Linked DNA regions of Homo sapiens: region 1 is linked to region 2. The links come from fine-mapping of genetic effects on gene expression. A gene starts in region 2. The other region holds a variant in brackets. All regions are shown on one strand. Distances are between the middles of the regions. Region 1 overlaps PSD4 (pleckstrin and Sec7 domain containing 4). Region 2 holds the start of PSD4 (pleckstrin and Sec7 domain containing 4).

Region 1 (9,564 bases), 35 kb before region 2:
GATCTCCCCTCTCCCACCTGCCCTCACCATCCTCCCACTTCCACCACCCAAAATACACACACCTTTCCCATCCATACCAACATGAGGCTTCCTGGCCAGGCACTGTGGCTCACGCCTGTAATCCTAGCACTTTGGGAGGCTGAGGCGGGTGGATCATGAGGTCAGGAGTTTGAGACCAGCCTGGCCAACATGGTGAAACCCCGTCTCTACTAAAAACACAAAAATTAGCCAGGCATGTTGGCGCATGCCTGTAATCCCAGCTACTCAAGAGGCTGAGGCAGGAGAATCACTTGAACCCTGGAGACGGAGGTTGCAGTGAGCTGAGATCGCACCACTGCACTCTAGCCTGGGTGACAGAGCAAAACTCTATCTCAAAAAAAAACAAAAACAAAACAAAAACCCATGAGCCTTCTTTAAGATAATTCACACTTCCTTGTCCTCTGGGGGTGGGCACCAGAGGAAGGGGACTGCAGACCTCAACGCCATTACTACTGGGCCTGGGCGTCAGCATCAGTCCTGTCAATCAGGACTGAGGGAGGCCGCGGGGAGGGAGGGATTGAGCTCCCTCCTAGGCAGCTCCTGCACCCACAGCTTAACAGCATCTCTGTCCTGCCTCAGCCTCAGAAGTGGTAATAACCCTCTCCACAGGCTTAGTTTCTTTTTCCATACAAAGCCCATTCACATCCATTTACATCTCTGATTCTGAATATTGGCCCCCTTTTATTTTGCACTTGGGGAATCTGAGACCAAGAGATAACTTGACTTTTTCAAGGTCATTCAGCGAGTCAGCAGAGGAGCAGGGACCACAGCCTTACCCCTAATCCAAGGCCTAGTCTGCATCCTATTGTCAGGCCTCAGATATCTGGATATGGCCAGGCTTCTGAGAGATGTCAGACACTCTTTGCTTTGCAGGGAGGGGCGGCAGAAGTCACTTGGCCAGTTGGGGCACAGTGACTTCTGCTGCCCCTCCCTGCAAAGCGTGACTGGACGCAAGGCCCAGAGCTCAACTGAAGAAGCACTGGGACCAGGCAGATTTGTGCCAGGCTGATCTCAGACTTCCCTCCATCCTTGGCCCTAAATCTCCCTTCAGGGTGCCCTTTGGCAGCCCCTCTCTAACCTTTAAGGTCATAAAGCCTTCCATGTTCCATAAAGGAGCTGGTGGCTCCTCTGCCCCAGGCTGCTGTGCTACCTTCTGACGCCAAGTGACCGAGCCGCCATGGCTATGGTTCTCATGGAAGAAACTCCCTCTCTCTCACCTCTATCTCCTTCCTTTGTTCACTTCTTCTAGTTTTCTAGTTTTTTTCCTTTTCTACTGAGTCTACAGCAATTATTCCTTTCCCGACTGTTTGAGAGACATTCGTGTCTCCAGGGCTATGAATGAGGGAAAGAGACAGGGAATGTTTGGGGAGAGCTCGGAGTCCCTGACCTCCTCAGGAAATGCCAGGAAGCATCCTTCCTCCCTCTCTCCAGTGCCCTCTCACTATCACCTTCTCCCCATCACCCTCTCCCCTTCTCCCTCTCCCCATCACCCTCCCCTCTTCTCCCTCTCCCCATTACCCTCCCCTCTTCTCCCTCTCCCCATCTCCCTCTCCCCTTTGTCCTCTCCCCATCGCCCTCGCCCCATGGCCCTCTCCTTGGCTTCTTGCTCTTCTCATTACTGTCTACAGCTCCTGCGGCTCTTTGGGGACCACTGGGACACAGACGCTGGAGGTCATTACCTCCTGGGTGGCAGACGCCTGTCCCCACGAGTCCCCACTCTCATAGGCACACACCACTGTCACCAACCCCATCCCTACATCTCCATGCCCTTCACATAGAAGGAGGGTGCCTGGTTCTCCTTCCTGCAAGAAGCTGGAGCAGGCAGACAGGGCGGACAGGTCTCTCCTTCCCCTGACCTCGCTCTTTCTCCTACCCTTGAGAAGCAGCAGGGGCTAAGGCCCACGGTGGAGGGGCTCAGGCCTCCTGGAAGGTGGCAAGAGGGGCTTTGGATGGGGAGGGAAGGGGAGGTGGGGGACCCAGCTCCTTGGCATCTGTGCCCGGTGGCAGCCAGCCAGGCTGTGGAGGGAAGCGCTGCCTGCGGCTCTCCCGGGGAAATGTGATTTCCCCCTGAGTGAAGCGGACTGTGCAGTGTGGAAATTGGCTCTTTTCTGAGCGAGCTGCTGCTGTTGCTGCAGAGTCGGGGCGGGCCGGCTGGCCCCTGGAGTGAGCCGGGAGCAGCCATGTGCTGAGAACTCATTAGGGATAAATCAAACTAGTAACAGCATGAAGCCAACACCCCCCCACCGCGCCTCCCTCCCCTACCCCCTCCGAGACCCCCCCACTTCCCCTCCTCCTCCATGGTCTTCTTCCCGTCAGACTCTCTCCTGCCTTCTCCACAGCCAAGGCACCCTCCCTGAAGCCAAGGCACCTCCCCCAGACAAGGCACCCTCCCCTCCAGTTTCAGGAGCCCGAGCTCCTGCTCCTGAACACGACCTCGTGGGCGCAGGCTTATCCGCCTACTGCCCAGACGCCCGGAGCCGCCCCAGTGAGAGACAAGTTCATTTATAAATACCGTCTTTTTTGTTTGTTTTATGTTTGTTTGCTTTTTTTTGCTGGAGATGGGGGCCTGGTAGCAAGCTTCACTGACAGCCACAGACAGCCCTTGCTAGGAGCACAGATTGGGACCTCACAGTCCAGGCCCTCTCATCCTCCCCCCAAAGTCACATCATTCCCCTGTCCTCACCTCCTAGAGGAACCCAGTGGGGAGGCCCCCAGCTGTGGGTAGCATTAATACCCCCACATATATCCATCCCCCTGGGGAAATGAGAGCACCCAGAAGACTTAACTGCAGCGGGAAAGAAATTATCCTTAAAACAGATGAGCTTGGTCAGAATGGAAACTCATTTCCCCACCGGAGGAAAACAAGGAAGAGAAACAGACAAGGAGGAAGAAAGAAGGCAGGAACAAGGCCTGGAGCTCTTGTCGTCATGAAGGTGATGAAAGTGTTTACTTGCAAAGTATAGCCATTTCTTCCCTAGAAACACCCTCTTTGCTGAGGCAGCGGGAAAGGGTCGGCCTGGTCTGTTATTCCAGGGGCTGAACTGGTTGGTGTTATTAAACTTTTGTTAGTTATCATATCATAATAACACGGCCCCTGGTTATTGCCTTTGTTTTCCCCCTGGGAGAGATTGGCTGAGGGATATTGCTAAAAGGGCCCAGACCTGGAGTGTAGGGTTGTGACCGGATTTCTGTCCCTTCCCTTCTGGCGACCCCAGGAGACTGCTCACTTACCTCAACTGTAAAATGCATGGCTTGAGCCAGAAAAATGTCCAGCTCAACGCTGTGACGCAGTAGTGACCCAGGTCAGTGACAAGCATTGAGGGCCTCATCTGACTGGTTTAGGTATGAAGCCCTCTTTCTCCAAAGTTTCCCCGGGAATTTTCCATCAGGCAAACACCATATTTCCATATTTGGAATCTGCTCTGTGTTTGGGGTGGGAGTGGCTCGGCTTCTGGTGCCCCACCCTGCCTGATGGGAGCTTGGGTCCTGACTCAGCTTGCCGAGCTAAAGCCAGGCTTCCAAAAAATTCCAGGATGGGGCAGAAACCAGAGGACAGCCAGCTAGCCACAGTTAGTATAGGCTGGGGCATGAGGATTCTGCTATAGCCCTTACATTAGTTGATTCACTCATTCATTCATTTATTCAGAAGTCTTTTATGAACTACCTGCTATGAACGTTTCCCTTTGGTAGGCACCAGGAGAAAACAAGATGAACCCAAAAGGACTCCTCCCAGCTCCCAAGGGGAAAAAAAACAAAAACAAACAAACGAACAAAAAACAGCTTAAGAAACGAGACTTGTACAGAACTATAGAGCAAAGTGGGAAAGTGAACATCAGAAGACAGTTGCACATAAAATACAAAATACTGTTGGTTTTCAGATAATACTTGCAAAATCCCTCATGGTCATCCCAGGCCTCTATCTGGGATCACTGTCTTCTCCAAGAAGCAGCCACTAGGAACAGCAACTGCAAACTCTAACCCTCAAGCCTGAAGTCCGACCTGTCTTCCTGGAAAAAGGCTGCTCCCCTGGCCTCCTATGCTTCTGTGTCTGGGAGGAGTAAGGCGGTGCTGGGCAAGGAAGAAATGAAACATCATCAGCATCCTTTCCCAAATACCCTCTCACCCCATTCCAACCGCCGTCTTCCAGACTTGCCCCAAACCTATCTAACCGGACCACAAGCCTAGAACCAGAAGGCCTGGGTCTCTCTCTGAGCTGCTGCTTTGTTCTTACACCTGGGTGGGGAAGGGGGCAGTGGGTACCCAAGGCCTGAAAACAGACTACAGGCTGCCCCTCCCTGCACATCTGGCTGGTCCCCTCCTTCCCATCTTGATAGCCCCCTGCACCCAGGGTGGACCAGCCCAGCTCCTCAACCACAGGTTGGAGGACTAGAAAAGGGAGAGAAGGGTCCAGGGTGGGGAGAGTGGGAAATGGCAAGCAGAGGAAAGGAGAGGGCCAGGGACATCACCTGGCTGTGAGTTCTAGGACTGCTGGGGGAGGTGACAGTGATACAGGCTTTAGGAACAGGCCTCACCTCCATGATCCCTATGATGCATACACATTTTCTCAGAGGTCTACTTGGAGGATGGAGGGAGGGGACTTTAGAGGCTGAAACACAATGATGGGGGGATGCAGTACCCAAATGTCCCAAGGAAGGGAGGGAAAGTAGAAGATAGGGAGTCAGAGAAGCGGGGAGCAGGTGCCTCCTCCCAGCAGCCAGCCCCAGGGAGGGAATGGGGGTGGACCCAGACCCGGGCCAAGGCTCAGGGCCCATCTGAGCATGTCGCCTGCTAAGGAGGAGTGGAGGCGGGGGAGGGGAGGGCGGGGAGGTGAATAAATAATAGGAAATAAAACTTCATGAAGCAGAAAATAAAAGGCAGATTATACAGATGTGGCAATTTGAAGGATCATTGCCTCTGTCCTCTTTTTAACTGCTGCATCTGGAGTTTCGAAGCGGCTTATCCTCTCCCTCCCTCTCCCAGGTCCCCGCCTGGCTGGAGGCCCCCACAGGGCCAAGGCACGTGTGGGGACAGCACCTCAAACGCCTCAAATGCCAGTGGCATTTCCTAGCACCACACGCGGCTGCCCAGCCTGGGACGGGCTTGCAGGGCGGTGGGGACAGTGGGTGAAAGGGTGGGCTGGGTGATTGGGGTGAACCTCTGAGCAGGTGTGGGTGTGGCTGGGTTTGTGAGCGAGTATGAGCTTGGTATGAGGACCAGGTAGACTGTGGGGAGTGAATCTGTATGGTTAGGAGTGGGGTAAGGATTCGTCAGGCATGAGGAAGGGGACACTGGTCTGGATGACTATCGGTGGGAGAATGAGGCCTAAGTCTCTGCAGCTTCTTTCTGCTCTTC[G/A]TCAAAATTCATGTGTTAAGCCTCAATTTGACACTGTGCCAGGTGCTATATAAACAGACATGGTCCCTGCCCTTAAGGAATTTCCAGCCTAAGACACACACACACACTGACATTTTGTTTATTTTATTTTAAATATTAATATATTCCTCACCTTGTTCTGGGGAGGATTTGAGACTGCTCATATGATATGCATGCCATAAATTAGTAAAATGCAATAAAAAATAAAGCATCAGACCACAGAAACTATGCCATGGGTGGTATAGCAGGCCGTAGGCGGCTGTAAAGTTGATCCGGAATTGGCCTTCAGTCTCTTAGTGGTCAACTGAAAGGGTGTTGTGGTCACATACATGGCTCTCATTCACAAGAGGGCAATGTACCAGCTCTTAGAAGAAGCAAAACTTTTTCTAGTACTTGACTCTAAGGAAAATTACCCACCTCGGCCCAGATGAAAGAGACTAGCGTGGATAATGTCCTCAAAACATGGCAGCAAATTCAGGCTCAGTTTCTCTGGGCTGTGTCCTGCAGGAAGATCCAAGGTGGTCACCCTCAGCCTCTGCTCAGTGAGAGCACTGAAATCCACACTCCCTTGAGCAAAGAAACGATCTGTATGTTTCAATTCTTTCTTCAGCACTGGGATTTCTTTCAAGTGGGTTTTCATATACAGATTAGCCCATGACCATGACTAGAGGCTCAGAGGAAATACTAGTAACTGAAGTCACAATTCCTAGCTGGGTCCAACTCAGGGTCAGAGCAGCGAATGTGGACATGTAGAGGGAGGAGGCCAGGAGTGGTGGGCAAGACTGTCAGCAAGCCTGCACAGGGAAAGCATCTCTTCTGTGTCTGGGTACCTCCTCCTGAACCTGTGTCACACCACAGAGGAGGACAAAGAAATAAGAAAACCAGAGGCTTCTACCCTGATTGTGAGGCAAAGGTCCATCCATCCGGGTCACATCTCTGTATGTATCCTGGTGTGTGATCTTTCAAAGCAAACGGATGACCTCAAGCCATCGCAGAATCACTCACAGAAACAGAGGAGTCAGGAGAGGACTAGTTTGCAGGAGATGACACCGAGTGTGGTCTTACAGGTAATATAGTAACACCTGTACCGTATGGTCATTTGTAATTTCAGGAAGATATATTGAGGAGCCATGTATTGTGGACAGTTAGAATTCCAGGTCTGAAATTCAGAACAGAGATGAGAGTTGAAGGCTTAGATTTAGAGACTTCTTCCAGAAACTATCTTGAAAGCCCAGCAGTCAGCCAGGTAAGATCTTTGAGGCTACATAGTTTAGGGGTGGGAAGAGCAAGAGGGAGTAGCAGGAAAGACAGAAAAAGAATATGCACCAGTACTTTGGGAGGCAGAGGCCGGCGGATCACGAGGTCAGGAGTTTGAGACCAGCCTGACCAACATGGTGAAACCCCATCTCTACTGAAAATACAAAGATTAGCTGGGTGTGGTGGTGCATGCCTGTAATCCCAGCTACTCAGGAGGCTGAGGAAGGAGAATTGCTTGAACCCGGGAGGCAGAGGTTGCAGTGAATTGAGATCGTGCCACTGCACTCCTGCCTGAAAAAGAATATGCAAGAAAGTAGAAAAAGAACCAGGACATAGTTTTGAGATGTGCATTCTTTCGACTCTAGATATCAGGCCCTGGGGAAGCAGTGGAAATCAACAATCCCAGTTCCTGCCCACAGGGAGTTTATGTTGCTCTGGAAGCAGAGAGGCAAAAAGAAATGAAGAGGGCCGGGGCGTGGTGGCTTACGCCTGTAATCCCAGCACTTTGGGAGGCTGAGGCAGGCGGATCACAAGATCAGGAGATTGAGACCATCCTGGCTAACACGGTGAAACCCCGTCTCTACTAAAAATACAAAAAAATTAGCCGGGCATGGTAGCGGGCGCCTGTAGTCCCAGCTACTCGGGAGGCTGAGGCAGGAGAATGGCGTGAACTCGGGAGGCAGAGCTTGCAGTGAGCCGAGATCATGCCACCGCACTCCAGCCTGGGCGACCGAGCAAGACTCCATCTCAAAAAAAAAAAAAAAAAAAAGAAGAGGAGAGAGGAGAGGAGAGTTACAGAGTTTCATGTAATAGAAACTGAAGGAGGAAGACTTAGGGAAGGCCTCTTGGAGGAAAGGGCATCTGCATATTAGTCGGTTTTCTCCCCATCATCCATTCCTCCTATCCTGTCCTTCCAGTACTCACAATTTCTCCACAGCTGGTCCCTATGTTTTGGTGGTGCTGACTTCACTCTCATCCTCTCCAGAAGTGGACTCTGATCTCCTTAAACCCCTGGCTCTAGTGACTGGCTCAGATATGGGCACACGGCCCAAGGCAGGCTGCTACAGGAGACTATTCCTGGATTTGAGTTTGAAACTTCCAGGAAGCAGAGAGTCACTTTCTGCTATATTTGCACCAAGAAAATGGATCTTGAGAGTTCCTGGGGCCATCTTGGAAGCATGAGGGTTGTTCCTGCTCATAGGCCTGGGAGATGGAGCCCCCAAAAGAACAAGAGAGAAAAGGGGCCTTGAATCAGAGTGAAGCCCGAGATGAAGCCTCACCTGACCTGGATACAGATTATTCAGCTATTGGAGCCAATCAAAGTCCTTTTCTGCTAAAGCTCATTTGAGCTCAGATTTGTTATTTGCAGGCCAAGGCAGAGCCAAGTGCAAAGCTACCCAGCATCCAAGCAGGATGGCATGCATGAGGGCAGAGCCTAAGCCAGAGCCCAAAGGAGGAGGGGAGCAGACGTGGGGTAAGTCTGGTGAGGCTATGAATTAATAGCTAACCTCACAGGTGTCCCTTCTGTGCCAGGCATTGTTCTGAGATGTTTACGTGCATAATTTCACTTAATCTTCATGAGGACCTTGTGACATAAGTAGTGTTATTATCCCCATTTTATAGAGAAGCAAACAGAACATAAGAGGCTAACTGGCCACGGTCAGATGGCTAGAAAAGCTGGACTCAATTCCCGGCAGTCCCACTCAAGGGCCTGGCCACTGGGGCAAGATCAGGCTGAGCCTGGGTGCAGGGTCTGGTAGATGATCACATAGCTATCAAGGCCAAAGGTCGCTGAGAGGTGATGGCGGAAGAAGGCTGAGAAGGCATCAGAGTTGATGACTGCAGCCATCAATTGCCCTAGGAGGTGCCATTTCAGGCAAAGGTGGGGTGGACGCCGATTTGTAAGGTGTGAATTAGAGCCAGGTATGAATGGGAACCTGGTAAGGGCTGGGAACAGTTGGCAAAGCCCACACATACCGTGAATTCATCACAGAAAGCAGGGAAGCCAGGGTCAGCTATGGAAAGCAAGAGAGTCTAACACCAGCTTTGATTTTTGCTCATGATGGTGTTTGCAAGGCATGATAATGAAGGGGGTAGAGAATAGGCTCAAAGAGCCCCAGTGGGCCCATGAAGGAGAGAGGTCTGTGGCAGGCAGGAGAAGAGGAGCCAGTGTGCCGGCTGAGGGGAACAGTTGGTCACAGGCTTGTGGAGAGCACCTCTTCCTCTGGAGAAGGGAAAATGAAGGGAACAGGTAAAGGTGCAAGCCACAGTTAGCTGGTGAGGGGGCATGGGCATCAGAAAAGCTGAGGGGCAGAGGTGTTGGCAGAGGGGCCAGTGGGGAGGACAGTAGCCATTCAAGAAACCTTGAGGATCTGTGAGCATGCCTGCTCAGCTCAGCAGGAGGAAAAAGGACCTGCTACGGCCAGGTTTTCACAAGGTTCTGGGATATTGCCTTTTTTTCTTTTTGTATTTATTTTGAAATAATTTCAGATTTACATATAAGTTACACAAATAGTACAGTGCATTTGCAGGCCATATTCTGACCCTACCCATTGGCCTTACTTTTTCAAGGCATTTCATCTTTTTTTTCTTTTTCGACAGAGTCTCGCTCTGTTACCCAGGCTGGAGTGCAATGGCGCAACCTCAGCTCACTGCAACCTCCGCCTCCTGGGTTCAAGCCATTCTCCTGCTTCAGCCTCCTGAGTAGCTGGGATTATAGGCATGTGCCACCATGCCCGGCTATTTTTTGTATTTTTAGTAAAGACTGGGTTTCACCACGTTGGCCAGGCTGGTCTCGAACTCCTGATCTCAGGTGATGCGCCCGCTTCAGCCTCCCAAAGTGCTGGGATTACAGGCATGAGCCACCGCGCCCAGCTCATCTTCTTAAAACAAAATCCC
Region 2 (12,984 bases):
CAGACGAGGTGAGGAGAATGCAACAGACTCATGGAAGAAGCAGGCACCCACGACATGAAGGCCACAGCCTGCCTTACTTCCACTTTCCAAGGCTCCTATCCTTGGGGCCTTACCCTGTTCACCAGGCTGGCTCACAGCCTGCTTCTTTGTCCTTGTAAGCTGTTGGCAGCTTGGAATTTGGCCCAGGTGGAAGCAGCAAGGGGCTCTCTGCTTAACTCAGCCCAAGCCCTCATGAAGGGAGGATGCTTCAGCCCTGCTGCCTACCACCCAGCAGACTGCCTGCTGCATGGGGAGGAGATCTCTGCCTTCTAGGGAGGAAGAGGCTGGGATGTGGCAGCCATGTCTGCCTGGAACTGCCTCACATCTGCCCAGAGCTGCTGTGTGCACAGCCTGCACTAACACTCTGGGTGGGCCCTTATCAGATGAGCCCAGGAACCTCGCAGGGTGTTTTCTAGAAGCATGCATTTCCATCCCCTGCATGCAGCCCACCGCTTACACGGCTCTCAGAGCAGCCCTGCTTCCTCAGAATAGCTGGCTTGTTTTGATCCAAAGCACACTGTGAAGCTTGTAACTTGTTTGTCTCATGGTGCTGGCTCTCCACAAAGTGGAAGTGCAGGGTCAAGTACACAGGTCCTTATGGCATGTCGTAAGCACTCCCCTGGCAGCTGTCTTTTTTTTTTTTTTTTGAGACAGAGTCTCGCTCTGTCACCCGGGTTGGAGTGTAGCGGCACAGTCTTGGCTCACTGCAACCTCTGCCTCCTGGGTTCAAGCGATTCTCCTGCCTCAGCCTCCCGAGTAGCTAGAATTATAGGCGTCTACCACCATGCTCTGCTAATTTTTTTTTTTTTTTGTATTTCTAGTAGAGATGGGGTTTCACCATGTTAGCCAGGCTAGTCTCGAACTCCTGACCTCAAGTGATCTGCCCACCTTGGCCTCCCAAAGTGGTGGGATTATAGGTGTGAGCCGCTGCACCCAGCAGCTGTCTTTTCTTATTTTCCCTTTGCCTCATTTTCTTCACTCACAGATTTCTATCTTGAAGGCTTACGTGCGTGCTTGTGAGCTATATTAGAATATTTTGGGGAGCAAGACTATTAACAAACACACACATGCTCCCAGTTTATAACCACGTGTGACTTCCAGATACCCAAGAACAACAGCCCCTTCCACATGCAGTTAACCATGCCTGTCCCCACCCACCACTCCCCCAACCTCGCACCTGAAAGATGAGCAGTCCCCTGCGTGTCGCTGTTTAACAGATGAGGAAGCCTTAGCCTGAGTCTGGCTTAATGACTCACAGCTGGTGACAGGGGCCGGACTCCGACCCCAGACCATCCACCTTCCGGTCTGCAGCTCTCTCTGCCCTTTCCCTGCTCCAGTATGAAGAGAGTGAGCCCAGGTGGCCTCGTCCAGGGCTCCAGACCTCACACTGAGATCCTCCCACAGGCAGGCTGTAGGACAGGAGCTTGACTGGCATGCAGGGCCCTAACCAGCACACATAACAAACCCATGGGGGTCAGCTCCTCCCTGCCCAGCACTAGAGAACATAAGCTGAATCAATAGCCACATGGACTGCAGCTCAAACCCTCGTCCTGCCACATACAACTGAGTGGATAAGCCTGGAAAGTTCCTTAGCATCTGGGAGCCCCACTGCAGTGGGGAGCTAGGGTTAACGGAGGTGATTCGCGCGGCCTTCAGCCCAGGCTTGGCCCACTGTTAGACACTCAGTAAATGGTAACCCTCAGCGCTCTCTCACGAAGGTCAGGGGGTCCAGCTGTTATTCAAGGTCACCTAGAAAACATTGCTTTGCCCCACGCCTTTTTTCTGGAGGGCACCTGAGAGAAGGAAGGAGGGCCAGTATGCATTTCAGTTTCTTATTCACCTTGAAAGTATCCTTTTTCTAAAAGTGCCTCCAAAAGAAATCTCTTTCTGGGTTTTTACCCCTCCCTCTGACCCAACCCTTGCATTCCTGTTTTAGAATAACAAGAATCTAGACTTGCTGGATGACACCCTCAGGATTCTGATGTTCCAGCCCACCCGGAATGGTCCCTGACCGGCCTTCAGGGCCCTTCCACCTGTTAGTTAAGGCAGCCTCCCCAACAGGCTGACTTTCCGAGAGGAGAGGCCCTTTCTTATGTTTAATCTTGTACTTGATGCTCTGAATCAAATGGACCAGATTTGGTCTCATCAGAGATGTTTGAACCAGAGTGGCTCCATCTTGAATAGGGGCTGGGTAAAATAAGGCTGAGACCTACTGGGCTGCATTCCCGGGAAGCTAGGCATTCTAAGTCACAGGATGAGATAAGAGGTCGGCTCAAGATACGGGTATCCTTAATCCAGCAGCCCAAGCGCTGCTCTGCCTATGGAGTAACCATTCTTTTATTCTTTTACTTTGCTAATAAACTTGCCCTCATTTTATGGATTCACCTTGAATTCTTTCTTGCACGAGATCCAAGAACCCTCTCTTGGGGTCTGGATTGGAATCCCTTTCCATTAACAGTCTTGCCTTTCATTCTTCTCCTATGGATCCAGCCTTCACTCATCATTCTAGGTTCTGCCTCTCCACCTCCCACCACTACCTCCAGGTAACAGGCAGAGGATTTGTATGGTTTACTCCTTAAGTCCATACCACTCTCTGCTCCCCATGCAGCTGCCCATTGTCACCCTCAGTGCTCTCTGGGCAAGAGGCCTGAGACGGTTCTACTTCTAAGGCAGAAGGGATGAGGAGCCTCAGGATCTATTGTCTATACTAGGGAAAACACCCTGGACCCCAAATCTCCCTCCCCAAACCTGCCTGGTGGAGAGCAACCGAGTGTGAGCAAGGAGGTGACTCACCCCACCACATCCCACTGCGCCTCCTCAAGACACCAGCCCATGGGGTATAATAAATGACTAGGAAGACATGTTTATTTAGAGATAGAGGGGAAAGCTGGGGAGAAGCACCTGGTTTACAGGTACCAGAACATAGGACATCCCTAGCTCTACTCAACTGCCTCCCTTCCCAGACCCCAAAGCCACCCTCCACGTCTCTGTAAAGTCCTGGTCTTTGGGCCCAAATAGTTCTCCTGCCATGCAAAATCCCTGATCCCTTCTCCTGTTCTCATTCACCCAACTCCACACATTGTACCTGAATGAGTGCCAGCCTCATGGCCCTATGAGCCCCAGAGCATTTTGCCAGGATAACGCCAACCCACCTTCTCTCACCATCAGTCAACTCACTTGGCAAGAAACGTTCCCGTGCCAATATGGGAATGGGAGTGGGAATGCGGGGCTGGGCCTGCTAGAAAGGACATCCTGAATTTTTCATAAGATGAGAGGAAACCCCACTTGTCTCTCTTTGCACATATGTACTTGCAAATAGATATGTATATGTACATAAAGCAGCCCTCTAGGTACACGCTAATGCTGATACTAGATACAAGTGAGGATTGGACTTGCCTTCCCAGAAAAAAACCAGCGTTCCTTGCTGGGTTTTTTCAGAGGAAAAAAAATAAATACCAGAGGCTGCAGCAGCTTTCCGAGCAAAGAGAAGAGAGCAGATCTCTGGGGCCTGCAGCACCTGAGGAGCCTGGGAGGGGTGGGGGTGAGGAACTGGTCAGTGGAGGGGAGCCCAAGGCAATGGAGACAGGAAGGGTGGAGACAGATCAGGTATTCAGTGGGGACAAGGCATGTAGTTTGACTGGCTGCGACATTTTTTTTTAGACGGTATCTTGCTCTGTCACCCAGGCTAGAGTGCAGTGGCATGATCTTAGCTCACTGCAACTTCTGACTCCCAGGTTCAAGCGATTCTCCTGTCTCAGCCTCCCAAGTAGCTGGGACTACAGGCACCCGCCATCATGCCTTGCTAAGTTTTGTATTTTTAGTAGAGATGGGGTTTCACCATATTGATCAGGCTGGTCTCAAACTCCTGACCTCAGGTGATCCACCTACCTTGGCCTCCCAAAGCGCTGGGATTATAGGCATGAGCCACAGCACCTGGCCGGCTATGACTTTTTAAACCAATTAAACTCAATGTGACTATACTCCACCCCTCGCTTTTACTTTCTGAGCGTTTATCCCGGTGTGTAGTTGCCAGTGTGTTTACCCGCGTGGTTCTAGTTTGCCTAGAAGGTAAGCACCAAGATGGCAGGTTCTTTATGTTTCCTGTTCGCCACTGTGTCTCAGTATGAAAATATTGAATGGCATAGTCACATTATGTAACTGATTTGTCAACCACTCCGACCCACAAGGTCTGGGGGCATACTTTAGTTCAACTGGATTTGAAATTTAAAGATCAGCATTGACTTGAGGGGTTTAGTTCAAGTGGATTAGAAACTTAAAGGTTAGCGTTGACGTAAGAGGTTCAGGCCCCCCTGTGACTTGAGCTGGTGTGCGAACCCAGGTTACAGCTCTCTTAAGCATCATTCTCTCCTCCTGCCCCACTGATCAATTCTCTTGGACATTCCTGAATTCACTTGAGTCACTCAAACTCCTGTACAGCGCCTCCTTGACTGAGAGTCGGCGTTGTAGAACATTTGTGAAAATAAGAGAGGGGATGGCTAGATGAATGGACAGACAAATGGAGAGACACACTGATGGGATGGATCCTCAGAACTCTCCCTCCACAACAACCAGGCCAGAAGACGGGGAAGACCGAGGCTTGGAGAAGAGAATTAGCATCATTATAATATGAAGGCTTCCCCACGGGGGCCAGTCTGCCCATGACCAATCACCTCATCCTCCCCTCTCCAGGAAGTCCAGTGCTCCAAGGGCAGTGCTCCCCCAGAGGTAGGTTCCTACCAGGTCAGCAGCCAAAATGTCCCTGTGGGTCTTGGCTCCCAGGCAGCAACCCGAACAGAAAGGAGGACCCATTCAATTGTCTTGTTTGTGCTCTCCATTTGTGCAGGGGGCACTGTGTAACTGTGTGTTTAAAAGATGTCTTCCTTCTGTTTTTTAATTGCTCTTGCCTGAATGGAAAGGTAGGATGACCTAAAAGGTGAAGTCACCTCCTAAGGCCAAAAAGGCAGTCCTACCGGTCACCCAGGTGAGGGCGGTCTGATCTCAGAAGGGTGGAGGATGGAACTAGCCTTTGATCCCTGAGGTAGGATGGCACCCTCTAGGCAGAGGCAGGCCAGAAACTGGGCAGCAGAGCCCAGGTCTTACGCATCTAAAATTTTCTTGGTTTACTTGTGTTTTTCCACCCCTGGTGTTTAGCAAAATCTCTCTTGAAATCTCCTGTCTGTTATCCCAACCAGAACGAAAGCAGAAGGAAAGGAATTCGCAGCAAAGGAATCGCCACCTGTCACATCAGTTGAGTTCTGTTACCTCTACATTAAAGTGGCCCTTCAGTTTTTCTGAGCTCTGAGGTGGCTCTGAAAGTTTAAGGAGGGTTCAGAGGGGAGGGAGCCGAGGTGGGGAAGAGAGAGCACTGCTCCACTCTGCTGCCAACCAGCCACTCTTCTTGAGCACAGCTGACTACATTTCAGAGAATCTTCACCACGGTGGGGAGGGGGTGTATGTTTCTCATGGAGAATACTGCAAGGGCTAAGCCTTATGTCCCTCTTGTGGGAGGTGAAACACACAGAAAGCAATGGCTGAGGGACTAGAAGGCAGAGTCCCTCCCACCTGCCCCACCCCCGGCTTCAAGGCAATTTCTTTTTGACCCAAGGGGGCAGGAAGGAACCCAGCTGACACCTGGCACCCGGACGGTGCTTTCTAACAGTGAGTTTGTTTTTCACCCTCAGCCTGGCATTGCAGCCTTGTACCCTGGCTGAAGAACGGGGAGACCGGGCACAGAGGCTGGGGTATGAGCCTGCCCTGAGTAGGAAGGTGATGGCCTTGGGTGCCCTGCACTGACCACCCTCCTTTGCCCACTTCAGGGTCATAGTGAAGAATGCAGAGCAGAATCCCATCCTAACTCTACAGCTGACAAGCCATGTGGCTCTGGGTGAAAAACTCCACCTGGTTCCTTTTCTGTAAAATAAGGAACCAAGACCCAATAAAGCTATACTTCACAGGTTTGTTGTAAAGTTGGAATGGGTCTGAGTGCTGGGCCTGGCCCTTGGTGGGTGCTCAGGAAATACCGTGTCCTGCTCAGTTTAATTTTGTTGTTTTGCTGTCCATTTAGAGAAGCCAAAATTAACAAAAACAAACAAATAGCCCTCCTGGTCAGGCTCAGCTCTCAGCCTCCTCAAGGAGTCAGCCCTGAACCTTCATCCGGAGGGTGCCTGTCTCTGTTTCCCTTTTTGAGCTTCCAGACTCAGCAAGCAAACGCTCCCTCCTTTTACCCTGGAAATGTTTTCCCTCCTATGGAAAAGGTATGAAGGCTTCTGGCCGGTCCAAGGACTTAGGAGGTGACCTGTCCTGTCCCTCTGCAGCCCGAGAAGCTGCCGAATTACAGATGTTGCTGCAGGCAGGAACCATGAGTGGAACTCCCTGGCCTGGAGCTGCAGGACAGAGGCCTCTGTCTGAACCTGGGGTCTGAAGCACCGTGAGAGAAATGACTCGAGAAGGCCCCACATCCTGCCCACACAGAAAGAGCCATCATGCAAATTTGCACGCACACACACACACACAGAGAGAGAGAGAGAGAGAGAAGACAGTGCTACTGAAGGCCTGTGGTGAGGCCAGCAGAGGCTCAGGAAGGGAGCAGAGGATGGCGGTCTGAGGTAGGCAGAGAGTATCCAGGGGAGAGATCACGGGGGTAGGGACAGAATGACAAAGGGGACCCAGTACAGCTGCTGCCTGGGGAGGACAAAGACCCCTAGGGGGCTGGGGCCAGGCTGGGCCTCTCCTCCCTGGGTCCTCTCACCCCACATCCCTCACCCCTTCTGTGGGTCTCTCCCCCTTCCCCAACAAAGAGCTCAGCAGCCTGTGTTCTGATCCCCATGCTAGGCGGTTCCTTGTCTGTAGGAGGAGGGGGCCACGGGATGCTCTAGAGTCCTAGGCAGCTGGGAGACAGGCCTGCTTGGGGACCACTTTTTAAAGCTGGTCCAAGGTCCAATGAACGGAGGAGTATTTATCATCAGCTAATGACAGGCCACCCTTCCCTGCATTCTAGCAGAGGAGTGACTTCAACTGTGGAATTTTAGGCCCTGGAATAAGGGGGGAATGGCAGTGTCAGGGGACTTTCCCTCCATGCAGCTACCTTCACTATAACAATAATGACTACAGTGGGCCTTAGTTTCCTACACAGGCACACTTTGAGAGTTCAGTGGTTCCTGTTGCCCATCAGGACAACAGGCCTAAGCCAGAGCTAAACCAGTAAGGAGGGTCCCCTTACCTCTCCTCGAGCTTCTCCAGGATGGTCCTGGAAGGCAAGATGAAGCTGGGAGCCCCCTGATGGCCAAGTTGACTCTGAGCTCCTGCAGCAACCACACCCAGAGCCACCCCCACCCCAAACCCAGGCCTTCCAGACTCCCTCTCTCCAGAGTCTAGGGTCGAGAATCACTTGGGACCTTTGGCCACAAAAGCCCCCACTGGGTACTCAGCCAGAGCAGTCACTGGGGACGCAGTGACACTCACAAGAGGATTAGCAAGGAGCTTCCTTCACCCTTCACTATTGCAGACCTCCAGAGGCTCTGCGGGGAGCCAGGGAAGGGAAACAACAGAGGTCCGTGGGGCCAGGGCAGGGAATCAGAGAAGGGTCAGATGAGGAGGGGTAGGCTGAGGGAGGAGGGGGACGGGACACAGAGCAGGAAGGGGGAAGGAGGGGCCTAGCCTAGCCCAGGCTCATGGCAGGTGCACACGGCACTGCCAGAGCCCTCGCCTCTCCCCTGCCCACCTGCCCCAGCCCCTGCCACAAGGACCCACATGTGACTCTCCACATTCCCTGCTCCCACAGGTTCCACCAGCCCCAACCTAGGCAGACCCACTTAGCTCACCTCCAAAGGACCCAAGAATGGATGGCTTGGCCTGGGCTCCCCAAGAGCACTTCCTGGCTCACAGTCGGCTTGCCCAGTGAATGTGGCTGTGACGGCTGGAGCTTCCGACTTCCGCTCCTCCTCACCACAACACACACCCCTCCTGCTCCCCGCCGCCTCCCCAGGGTTCCCTAGCTGCTCAACACCTCACACTTCCTGCCCACAAGATAAGAGCCTCTCTTCCTAGGCCCAGCGCCTGCAGCCCCTTTCCCCATGCCCCTGCTCCTTGGAGGCCCCCACCCTGCACACCAGCCTAGAAAGAACCTGCCATGGTGGAACTGGCCTCTCCCTGCCATGCAGGGGCCTGGGATTGAAAGGGGAAGGGGCCGAGGCCTGGTTGGTAAGCAGGCCCCACCTCCTTCCTCCCTGCGCTTCTGCCCCAGGTTCTCAGTCTTGCTCTGGCTCTTGGTCCCCTGCAGGGCACCCAGTGAGAGACAGGAGGGCCCTAAGTTGGGCAATTTCTGGTTTTAAAACAAATGACATTTCAATTTTTGTGTGACTATGTCTCATGTCACTGGTAATAATGCAAATGATACAATTGCCTTTTAGTTACAAAGTTTCTCCCAATAGTACCTCAATCCCTCCTCACACCTACTTTATGAAGCATTAATAACCCCATCATACAGATCCGGATCTGGAGGCAAGCTCAGAGATGCTAAGCCACTGCCCAGGGTTGCACAGCTGGAAAATTACAAAGCTGGGGTTAGAATACAGAGCCTGTGACTATATGAACCAAGGGACCTCCATTCCCCGTGGCTGAATTCCCAACACACGTCCTCAGGACACCGGCCGCAGTGTCCACAAGTGTAAGTGAGGCTGGTGGGGAGCGCAAACACCATGCCATTCTCCTCCCTCCACACAATCTACTTCCTCAACATCAATGACCGTCAACTTCTCTGCTGAGGCTCCACCACTCCCACCCTCCCTGAACTCTCGTCTTCATGATTCCAGCTGACCCAGAGACTCCCTCACTTGCATGTCCACACAGCAGTGGGGACCAGCCACCCTGACCCAGAGTTGAGAGGGTCGGGCTCTAGCTCACCTACAGCCGCACCCCTCCCTGCAGGGTACAGAGTCCACAGGAACATACCAACATGGAGCCCGTGCACCCTGCTTCTCCACCACACTCTGCGTGCCCCAGATCCCGAGACTCTCCACTTCTGGGGCCCAAATGGCCTCCTCCCCATGTGGGCACACAGCACCGCTGCCCTATGCAGCCTGAGACTGGGTGAAGCGCTGGCAAGAGTCCTGATAGCAGAGACGGGAGCAGGTAGAGAGAGCTCAAACCTTTGGGCAGGTCACCCACCCACATGCACGTGTGATACAGAGCAGGGTGGGGAAGAGAAAGGGAGGTGGAGCTGTGGCGTGGGCCAAAGGCTGGGGTGGGCTGTGCTGTGGCAGCAACATTCAGAGGCGGCTAAGAATCCTCCTTCAAACCTGGAGCTCCAGGCCATGATGAAAGTGGGAGGTAGGAGAATTAGGAGAATAGACACTTTTTTTTTTTTTGAGACCAAGTTTCGCTCTTGTTGCCCAGGCTGGAGTACAGTGATGCCATCTAGGCTCACCACAACCTCCACCTCCCAGGTTCAAGTGATTCTCCTGCCTCAGACTCCCAAGTAGCTGGGATTACAGGCATGCGCCACCACGCCCGACTAATTTTGTATTTTTAGTAGAGACGGGGTTTCTCCATGTTGGCGAGGCTGGTCTCGAACTCCCAACCTCAGGTGATCCGCCCGCCTCGGCCTCCCATAGTGCTAGATTACAGGCGTGAGCCACCGCACCCGGCAGGACACATTTTATATGACAGTTTGTGAGCTTTAGTCTTAACTTTCATGTATTTGGACATATCAGATGGGGTCCTCCACTCTCCACTTCCCAGGGCTGGCAAATGTTGGGGACATGCTTATCTCACCAGCACTTCAAACTCAATGTTTATAAGGCAAACCTGGTTCCTTCTCTTCTCCAAGCTCTTCTTCCTCATATATTTCAGGTTTTACAACTCTCTCTCTCCATCAAGCTGGGTAAGTCAGAAACCTGAAGTCACCAAGACCTAAATGCAAACCCTCCACTCTGGGCCCCAGCCGCTAGGGGTGTCTCCGGAACATGGCCAAGGCTCAAAGTCAGCACCTGCTCTGTGCAGGCTCTATGCTACAAGCCGCTGACCTATCAGGAATAAAACACATGACCCCTGTGGAAGCTGAAGCAACTCCATCTTGGAAGCTAACCTGCCACATTGACTTAACTGAGTGACCCCAGTTCCAAGGCAGGGCCTCTACAATTTCCAGTTTATCTATTGTTTCCTGTGTAAGAGCAGATACTTACTGTAAGTCCGTAAGTGCTACTCGTAGGTCAAACAACCTTGATGATATCACACTTCAATTGTCTTATAAATCCCATCTGAACCACTCCTACCCTATGGTATATGAGCCCTGGGTTTGGGTGCTAATGCGGGGATCCACCATCTCATCTCATTGCCGCCTGAGACACCTACATGGCTTCTGTTGGAAAGTCCCCTAGCTTTCTCAGCCTCTTTCTTCAACTTCTCAACTTCCTCAGACTTTGGGGTAGGTTTGCATAGGCCTGTCTACTGCAGAACAACTCCTGTTCTCAGGGAGCTTCCAGTCTACTGACAGAGAAAGAAAATAAACAATCGGACTTATGAATCAAACTTTATCATAAATTGTGAAGAATGCCTGGGAAGAAGCAGAGAGAAATAAGAGAGCAGCAAGGGTGAGCACACTGCCGTGGGAATTCGGGAAGGTCTCTGAAGCTGCACCATGTCCTGGTGAGGAGGGTCCAGTATGGAAGGGCATTTTCGGCTTCTAATTCCTTCCCTGAGGTGGGAAATGTCTCCACATTTCCAGGGAATAGAAAGCAAGCCAGTGTGGTGCAGCGCAGTCCCAGGGTCCCAGGGGGTGTGGGAAAAGATGGGGCCAGGAGGGGCAGGGCCAGATCCCACAGGCACCCCAGTGGCAAGACAGGGTGCATTTTTTTTTTTGAGACAGTCTCACTCTGTCACCCAGGCTGGGGTGCAGTGGTATGATCTCAGCTCACTGCAACCTCTGCCTCCCAGGTTCAAGCAATTCTCTTGCCTCTGCCTCCCAAGGAGCTGGGATTACAGGTATCTGCCACCACATCTGGCTAATTTTTGTATTTTTAGTAGAGACAGGATTTCATCACGTTGGCCAGGCTGGTCTCAAACTCCTGACCTCAAGTGATCCACTTGCCTCGGCCTCCCAAAGTGCTGGGATTACAAGCATGAGCCACCATATCCAGCCCAGGGTGCATTTTTGTTTGTTTGTTTTTTGAGATGGAGCCTCACTCTGTCGTCCAGGCTGGAATGCAGTGGTGCGATCTCGGCTCACTGCAACCTCCACCTCCTGAGTTCAAGCGATTCTCCTGCCTCAGCCTTCAGAGTAGCTGGGACTACAGGGGCCCGCCACCATGTCTGGCTAATTTTTTGTATTTTTAGTAGAGACGGGGTTTCACCGTGTTAGCCAGGATAGTCTCGATCTCCTGACCCCATGGTCCGCCCACCTTGGTCTCCCAAAGTGCTGGGATTACAGGCATGTGCCACAGCGCCTGGCCTTGTTTGTTTGTGTGTTTTTAAGATGGAGTCTTGCTCTGTCTCCCAGGCTGAAGTGCAATGGCGAGATCTTGGTTCACTGCAACCTCCACCTCCTGAGTTCAAGCGATTCTACTGCCTCAGCCTCCCGAGTAGCTGGGATTACTAATGTGTGCCACCACACCCAGCTCGTTTTTGTATTTTTAGTACAGATGGGGTTTCACCATGTTGGCCAGGCTGGGTCTTGAACTCCTGCCCTCAGGTGATCCGCCCACCTTGGCCTCCCAAAGTGCTGAGATTACAGGCGTGAGCCACCATGCCTGACCCCCAGGGTGCATTTTTAAAGCAGAGAAATGACAGGTCAAAGAGTATTTGTGTATTTACTTTTAAGATCATCCATCTGCTATATGGAGAATAGATGGACCTGTCTGCTGTATGGAGAAGAGATGGTAGAGGCTACGTAAGTTCAAGGAGACCAGTCAGGAGGCTCTGTGAGAGTCCAGGCAATGGGGGAGAGTGGCTTGGCTGGGGCAGTCACGGCAAAGAAGAGAGGCATAGGGCTGGGAATGCATATGGGGGATGATTATAGAACCTGCTCTTTCATTATATTCGAGGGGACAAGATGGGAGGGGAAGTCATGGGCAACTTCCAGATTTCTGACTTAAGCAACCAGATGGGCAGTAATAATGGCATTTCCTGAAATAGGAAAGAACTGGGAGATGAGGCTCAGGGGAGAAAATCCAGAGTTTAACTTTTATTTATTTATTTATTATTTATTTATTTATTTATTTATTTATTTTGAGATGGAGTTTCGCTCTTGTTGCCCAGGTTGAAGTGCAATGGTGCTATCTTGGCTCACAGCAACCTCCGCCTCCTAGGTTCAAGCGATTCTCCTGCCTCAGCCTCCCAAGTAGCTGGGTTTACAGGCATGCACCACCACGCATTTTGTATTTTTAGTAGAGACGGGGTTTCTCCATGTTGGTCAGGCTGGTCTTGAACTCTCGACCTCAGGTGACCTGCCCACCTTGGGCTCCCAAAGTGTTGGGATTACAGGCTGAGCCACCATGCCCGGCCCAGAGTTTAATTTTTAAATATTGGATTTGAACTACCTGTGAGATATTTCAAGTAGGCAACTGAAAAACGCACCTGGAGCCCATCTGAGCTTGGAGAGAGAAGGTGGTGCCTACCTGGGATGGGAGGGGACAGGTCTGCAAAGGAGACTGAAAAGGGACTGTCACAAAGGTGAGAGAAGCAAGGGGAGAGCCATGTTGTCACAGAAGACAAGAGGAGGTTACTTCAGACGGAGGAAGTGGTTGGCTTGGTTGATTGCTGCTGAAAAGTGGAGGAGATTAGAAGCGAAAGTGATCTATATTGAACATGGCCAGAGGTTATGGACAAGTGGGGTTGGCAGCAGATGCGGAGGCAGAAGCCAGGAGACCAAGAGGTGAAGTGTCACCTCCTCAAGTTCGGGCTCTGCCCCGTCCCGTCCAGACTTCCTGGTAATCCATGGTTTCCTGAGGC

The links. PIP is the estimated chance that this variant, and not a neighbour inherited with it, causes the effect.
Region 1: its variant is the best candidate, but not a certain one, in a credible set for the expression of PSD4 in fibroblasts (GTEx, PIP 0.50).

What each region holds. Positions count from the first base shown.
Region 1 is chr2:113,205,326-113,214,889 of GRCh38, reverse strand. It overlaps PSD4 (pleckstrin and Sec7 domain containing 4), which reads right to left. Exons shown (of 17, transcript NM_012455.3): 17 at 5,499-9,564. Among named protein-coding and RNA genes, the nearest start is that of PAX8-AS1, 26 kb to the left of the region's middle. RefSeq lists a silencer at 2,404-2,698. The variant G/A (reference allele first, on the strand shown) is at 5,392.
Region 2 is chr2:113,168,930-113,181,913 of GRCh38, reverse strand. It overlaps PSD4 (pleckstrin and Sec7 domain containing 4), which reads right to left and starts at 7,943. Exons shown (of 17, transcript NM_012455.3): 1 at 7,860-7,943. It overlaps LOC124907872 (a long non-coding RNA gene), which reads left to right and starts at 6,146. Exons shown (of 2, transcript XR_007087197.1): 1 at 6,146-6,644; 2 at 9,889-10,566. RefSeq lists enhancers at 7,371-7,460, 8,081-8,250, 8,301-8,370, 8,600-9,100, 9,101-9,601.